Homo sapiens: one gene and its partner. The protein of the gene in region 2 interacts with the protein of the main gene of each other region in a pairwise test. Each region holds a gene or a part of one and is shown on either strand. Other genes may lie near its edges.

Evidence for each region. Proteins that work in one complex are often made in the same cells at the same time.
Region 1: the proteins of RMDN3 (region 2) and SLC30A8 interact in binary tests that used the Homo sapiens proteins (3 or more experiments, as listed by UniProt).

What each region holds. Positions count from the first base shown.
Region 1 is NC_000008.11:117,151,941-117,155,691, forward strand, and holds part of SLC30A8 (proton-coupled zinc antiporter SLC30A8), read left to right. Parts: intron 1-1,003; coding exon 1,004-1,150; intron 1,151-3,751. UniProt on the Homo sapiens protein: Proton-coupled zinc ion antiporter mediating the entry of zinc into the lumen of pancreatic beta cell secretory granules, thereby regulating insulin secretion.
Region 2 is NC_000015.10:40,753,617-40,757,367, forward strand, and holds the start of RMDN3 (regulator of microtubule dynamics protein 3), read right to left. Parts: upstream 1,639-3,751; 5' UTR 1,467-1,638; intron 1,175-1,466; 5' UTR 1,168-1,174; coding exon 981-1,167; intron 1-980.

The sequences.
Region 1 (3,751 bases), on a different chromosome or scaffold from region 2:
CTTGACAAACCAGTTATTAACTACGGCTAGAGCCAATGGCCTGTGGGGATTATTGCAATTATGAGCCATCTATGTAATTTTTAAAAATTAGGCGAGACAAGGTGAGTCTGATGATGGCGGGGCTGATGGCTGACAGTCTCTGCTATTTTGTAGTACACAAGGCAATAAACAGCTGTAGGGAGAACTAATCAGTCAGCAAAAGCCCTTTGCTGGGAAGATGTAGTAAGAGCAATAAAGGTTATTGCTCTCAAACAACAAACCATGTCTGGGAAGGAAAGGGCAAGGTTTTTCTTTAACTTCTATTTTGGAGGCTGGAGGTCTTTTCTCAAAGGAGGATTAGAGGGAAGTAGAGGGAGCACATCAAATAAAGGGAAAAGCCAGGCAGGACTCTCATGGCTTACATTGCATCCCTATGCTTTATTGGATTGTAGCACTGAGGACGCCCATTGGAAGGTACCTGCCCTTTCTCCTTTCTGCTCCCTGTTATTTCTTACAGGGATTTCAAGCTCAGGTGGATAATATATATTAATAGAGAAAAAGGAAAGGGTAAAGATGCTGATTAAATTATAAGTCAAATAAAAACACATCTGTGGGCCAGATCGCAACATCTAGTTTATAAACAAAAGTCCATGTCCTCAGTCTGGATTATGAGACTCTTTGAATCTGACCCGCACTGCTTCAGCCTGATTCTCTTGTATTCTCCTCTTTTGAATCCTTATACCCAGTCTAATTAAGGTGTTCTCCAGATGTGCCTGCCCCACACTTTCTAGTCTCTATGTCTTTTCTACCCCAGGAATGGCTTCTCCTTTGAAATTGATTTCTACATGTTCAAATCATATCCCCTCTCTGAGTCGCAGAAGGGGTGAATTAAATCAACTTTAAGATCTCTTTTTCCTCTAAAGTTTTGTGAGTCTGTGGCATTTTCACCCATGATGGTTAGCATGTCTGTGAATCTAGCTGCATTCTGGGACCTTAACACAGTGTACTATTTTGCATTCTCTAGGTGGGCACATTGCTGGGAGTCTTGCTGTTGTCACAGATGCTGCCCACCTCTTAATTGACCTGACCAGTTTCCTGCTCAGTCTCTTCTCCCTGTGGTTGTCATCGAAGCCTCCCTCTAAGCGGCTGACATTTGGATGGCACCGAGCAGGTACGGTTCATAGAGTGAGCAATAACAGCAGGCTGGTGCTGCAAAGTCAAACCAAGGGTAAAAGTGGAAGACACGAAGCAAAGCCTTGTTGGAAAGTCCTTAGAGACACATTTCTGATGCACAGGATAAAACAAATGTGTATGTGGGAATGTGTGTTTTCAATATTAATTCAGATAACAGACAGATTAATGGTGCTATCTCTAGTCCTCTGGGACAACAGGAACACGTGTATCACTTCAGCAACTGCCCCAGCCTCAGGGACTCTGTGTATGGTGACAGACATAACGCAATTCATTAAATTACTCTGCATCCCTGGAAGAGAGGATAGGAGTAAAGCTTCTGCCATATTGCAAAATGAGGCACAGAGCACCCAAGAGAGTTATAGAGATTGAAGAACTTCTTATAGAGGATTCAGGAATAGAATATAGGCTTTCCTGCTCACACACAGCATTTAGCCATTCAGCCATTGGTCCAATTGAATATCTTGCTCGCTCAATCAACAATAATGCAAAAAAGGAGGAGGAGAAGGAAGAGGAGAAGATGAAAGTTTACTTTTTCTCCTTTCTTGCGCTGGTTCCTTCACTGAATAACTGCTTACTCTTGTATAGGCAGTAGCCAAGGTCATGATAAGGGGTGTGTGTGTGTGTGTGTGTGTGTGTGTGTGTATTCATTCTTTATTGCTCAGTTGACTGTTGTAACAGGAGGAAAGCAAACACGTGCTGAAACATGTGCCTGAGCCTTGCCTGCCATTTATTAAATGTGGTTCACGTGTGCTTCCTTAAATAATTTCACAATAGACAAATGAATCCACTCTGATTAAGAAAGGGAGAGAAGAAGTCTAGTGCAAATTCCAGCCTTCTCAACTCATAATTATAGGGATTTCAAATAACATGTATGCACTAAAACAGACATAAATAACTTAACCAAGTAGCATAAACAACTTGGAGGTCTCTAAATTTGGTATATAACACATTTGACTGTATGCTTTTTTAAATTTTAATTTTAATTTTAATAAGTTCTGGGGTACATGTGCAGGATGTGTAGGTTTGTTACATAGGTCAACGTGTGCCGTCATGGTTTGCTGCACCTATCAACCCATCATCTAGGTATTGATAAGGGTTTTTACTTTGACTCATTTTTACAGTCCCTCCCTAACCCACCCCCACAACCCCCACACTCTGCAACTTCAATTCTTCTCCTCTGTGTTATTCCTTCTATCAGCTGGAGGAGGTTCCGGCTGAATATTTTGTGCAAATCATGTGAACAAATAGCCACAATTCCACATTTTCACACTGGTTGAGAACATCCATGTAGAGGAAATTGGAGAGCTGAGCAAGGGTGGCCAGCCTTCACTGAAAGGGCTGCTAGACACATATCACAGCTTATAGACTGATAACTGTGGACTGCGGCTTTTCAAGTTTAGAATGGCAGGAAGTCCTAATTTCATACTAAACAAACACTTGATCATCGCAGGTGTTTTGACTTGCTTCCCTTTAACATTCAGGAGATGAGGCAATAAACAGCAGTAAAGAGAGTTTGTGACAACGTGATCTGAGAATGTTTTTGCTGGTGCTTGAACAGCGCTACACTTGGAAAACATGGACCTGTAGCTAAGCACCCATTATTTGTCTGTGTAAAGTTTTACATGTACTTGACCCTTTCTGATACCATTTGTCAAAGCAGTTTTGTAAACCTAGGATGATTTGAAAATGTAGGGTGAACTCAGAATTTAGATCTCTGCTTGTACTTTGGCATCGTGGCCATGGAAGACCCTGAGCTATTAATAGAACTCTCTGCTGCGAGGGCAATATTCTGTAATATACAGTAAAATGTAGCTATTGAGCACTTTAAATGCAGCTAGTGCTACTGAAGAACCAGATTTTAAAATTTACTTAATTTCATTTTAAGCAGCCATGCATGATTGGTGGCTACCATATTAAACAGCACCTCTATAGATACAGAGGTGAGTCCAACACATTCATACGCAACACACCCATAATCTGGCCAGCCCAATGAGCCCAGCTAAGCTAACTTATTTCTTTTTTAAGCAATCATTGTAACATTTACCAATGATCCTCATGTGCCTCCTGTTCTAACTAGTTACTTTTGGATTTCTGACTCTTTGTTTTGTCTTAAGATCTGACTCCTGACTCTTGCTCTTGGTATTGAGCTTTACCTCGCCAGCTCTTTTCCCACTGTGCTTCCTAATCATGGGTTTTGAGTTAGACACACTCCACTTTCATACCCTGTTTTGGATTTTCATGGATAGGAAGCACACTACCTGACATCCACAGACTCAACCTCCATTTCCGGCTAACCAGAAATTCTTGGGCTTGGTCCTCATAAACTTCTGCAAAGGGGAGTCGTAAGTAGCCTGAGTAGACTAATAAAATAACAATTTCTTGAGTGTTTGCTATATGTTATATTAGGTTCCTAGGGCTGCCTTAATAATGTACTACAAATTGGGTACAGTATTTTGGGGGGTACATTATTAATTTTCATAACAAATTATGAAGGTTGTCTATGAATGAGGTCGGGGAAATAATTGCCATACACTGGGTAATAATATATTACATTACTTGGTTTTAAATACATTTCTGT
Region 2 (3,751 bases):
AATTGACAAATCTGCAAGAACTACTCATTTCAGCTGTACAGGCTGCCAGCCACATTCAGCTTCAATTGCATTAAGCGTGCTCCTAGCCCTATGCCGTAGAAAGTCCACTGGACCAGGTGACCAGGCCCAACCTTGCCACTTAATCTGTGACAGCCTCAGGAAAGTTATACCATCTTTTTGAATCTTGGTTTCCTCATAGGAGGGATAAAAAGAAAAAAAAACTTGAATGAGATAGTTGCCAAGTTGTCTTGATAGTTGCCAAGTTGTCTTCAAATTCTAATATATGATTTAATACATAAGCCTCAAGACTTTTAATCCCTACAAGATTATTCTTTTTGCCCTCTTTTGGACTCTTCCTCTACTTATTACACACCTCACCCAACACTAAGCAAGTGCCTTTAATACCCACATAGCACTATTGTGGCCAGAACTAAAAGTGAAAGTTAAACAGTCTTTTTGAAATATACTTTCTTGTGAGTACAGGCGAAAGAGTAGAGAAAACCACGACTGCTTTTTTTTTTTTTTTTTTTTTGAGACAGAGTCCCACTCTGTCACCCAGGCTGGAGTGCAGTGGCGCAACCTCAGCTCACTGCGGCCTCCGCCTACCAGGTTCAAGCGATTCTCGTGCCTCAGCCTCCCCAGTAGCTGGGACTACAGGCCGCGCCACCACGCCCGGCTAATTTTTGTATTTTTAGTAGAGATGGGGTTTCACCATGTTGACATCTGGTTGAACGTTGGCCAGGCTGGTCTTGAACTCCTGACCTCAGGTGATCCGCCCGCCTCGGCCTCCCAAAGTGCTGGGATTACAGGCGTGAGCCACCGCGCCCAGCCCGACGACTGCTTTTTCAACAAGCTTCCAAAAAAGTGAAACCCTAAAGCACTTCTCTCCGTTACCCTGTCCCACAGTCTCCACCGAAAGCAGCCCAGACCTCAGGCCCATTAGTCTGCAGTGACCGCGGTCTCAGGAGACGGGCTCCTACCGTGGCGTCCGGGATCTGAAGTCTGCGTATAGTCCAGGGAGTTGGGCAGGCTCTGGCTGCGGCCATGACGCTGGGTCCGTTTCCATCGCTGGCTGTAAAGGAGGCACAGGAATCCAAGGCCGGCGGCGGTACCCAGCAACAGTCCCAGCCCGGCACGGGCACCACCCAGGGCTCCCAGTCTAGACATGCTGCACCTGCGGCCAGCAGAAGTCACCGGGAGCAGGCAGGCGGGCGGGCGGGCGGGGGTAAGGAGAGAGAGAGATTCGTGAACCCGGTAAACCCACCCTCAAGGCTGAACCCCGGCAGGTATCCCCTTGCCCAAACCCTGAGCTCTCGACTACGTGCACCCCAGTCTGAACCCTAAGGCTTCCTCCAGCCTCCTGGGCCCCACTGCCTCTCTTCTCACCCAGCCTGGACGTAGCCGCCCCTCCAGTACACCCCCCGACCCGGGTCACAGAGTCCGGCTTCTGGGCCTTCAACCCCCACCTCAGCCTCACGACACTGCAGACCACAAACCCGGCGCCCTGGCTGCAAACTCCTGGCCTTCCGCCGCGGCCCCCGAAGGCGCTCTGGCCTGGCAGGAGATCCACTCAGACCCTTACCCGGCCGCCAGCCACCATGGCAGCAGCCGCCGCGGGCTCACGCTGTCAGTGACCGTGACGTCAGGCAGGCGGCGCCAGGTGCTCGGCGCCCTGCGGGAAGGCGCAGAGAGATGACCGCGCCGGCCCCGCCCCTTGTCTGTTTCCCTCAGGGGCGGGGCCACGGGCGCCGCCGGAGGGGCGGAGTCAGCACAGAGCGCGAAAGGAAAGCAAGAAGGGGCCCAAGACAGGGGAAAGGCGGGAAGGCAGGGAGACTTCTTGGGCGGACGCTCGCGCAGTCACCCTCACCGTCCGGCAGCCAGGCCTCCATTTCCCTCCGGTCACACCGGCTTAACTTGCTGCTCCCGGAATACGCTCAGCATATTCACACTTTCTACCTGCGCTTCTGCCTGGACCTCCCCTCTGTACCTGGAAAACGTCACGCTCTCCCCACATTTTATTTTTATTTTTATTTTGTAGAGACTGGGTCCCGCTCTCCTGGTCTCTCAAAGTGCGATCCGCCCGCCTCGGGCTCCCAAAGTGCGTGAGCCGCCGCACCCGGCCATAAATCTTAAACCTAACGTGCTGTCTTATAATTCTGTTTTACTCTTGTAATTGTATGCAACTTCTTATAATTGTGGCAACTAAAAAGACCGATTTTATGGACTATGATAACAATTTTATTGTGAACATTTCTTAAGAGTTAAAATTTAGTTTAGTGAAAGAAATATCTAGGCCAGTCCTCCCAATACCCTTGACTAGATCTTATATTTATTTACCCTTTAATTGTGAGATATTGTATACATATAAGAATACAGGAGGCCGGCCGTGGTGGCACGTGACTGTAGTCACAGATACTCTGGGGGCTGAGATGGGAGGATCACTTGAGCCCAGGTCGTCGAGGCTGCAGTGAGCCATGATCACTCTGGGCAACAGAAGTCAGGATATCGAGGCCACCCAGGCCAACCTGGCGAAACTCCGTCTCTACTAAAAGTACAAAAATTAGCTGGGCATGGTGGTGCACGCCTGTAATCCCAGCTACTCGGGAGGCTGAGGCAGGAGAATTGCTTGAACCCAGGAGGCAGAGGTTGCAGTGAGCCGAGATCTCGCCACTGTACTCCAGCTTGGGCAACAGAGTGAGGCCTCCTCTCAAAACAAATAAACAAAAACAACAACAACAAAAAATATATTTATATATATATAAAGTATATATATATATATACACTTTATTTTGGAGGAAATAAAAATTTCCTCTGGAAACCTTCCCAGATCACCACCTTGGTGAAATTAAGCTTTTCACCCTGCTTTGCTCCTGTGGCTCTATTGCCTCCATTATACTTTTTTTTTTTTTTTAGACGGAGTTTCGCTCTTTTCGCCCATGCTGGAATGCAGTGGTGCGATCTCGGCTCACTGCAACCTCCTCCCCCGCCCCTGGGTTCAAGCAATTCTCCTGCCTCAGCCTCCGGAGTAGCTGGAATTACAGGCTTGCACCCCCACGCCTGGCTACTTTTTGTATTTTCAGTAGATACCGGATTTCTACATGTTGGTCAGGCTGGTCTCGAACTCCTCACCTCAAGTAATCTGCTTGCCTCAGTCTCCCAAAGTGCTGGGATTACAGGCGTGAGCCACCGCACCAGACCCATTACACTCTGTTCTGTGATTATTTGCTTTCTACTCTGTCTACACCACTGGACTGCCCACTCTTCCAGGATGGGGTTCACTCCTGATTCATCCCAGGTCCCCTGTGCCTGGCACAGCTCTAATGCAAAAGCATCCATAAAAGCTGAATGGAGGAAGGAAGAAAAGAAGGCGTGACCGACAGCACGCCCTGCCACTTTGACAGTGTGTTCTCAGCTGTGGCAGAAAACTCAGTGGCAGAACAATAATTTCTCCTCTCTACGGGGGGGAGGCAGCTCTGTGAGATAAACGGATTGTGATGAGAGGCTAGGCCAAATGGGCAGACCAAGCAGGGGAATTCATTTCCCCCTGGATATTAAAGATGTTATCTGGCAGGCACGTGTCTGCCAGGGCAATCAGCAGTGTGGTGGGTGGCTCTGGACAGAGCTCTTTATCTTGTGCTGCATCTGCAGACTAGCTTTGCAAATGTAATAAAGGCCTGGCTGCCTGAGATATGCACTGCCCACCTTCCCACCCCCTCCACAGCCCAGCCTGAGAAGAGAGCAGACCAGACCC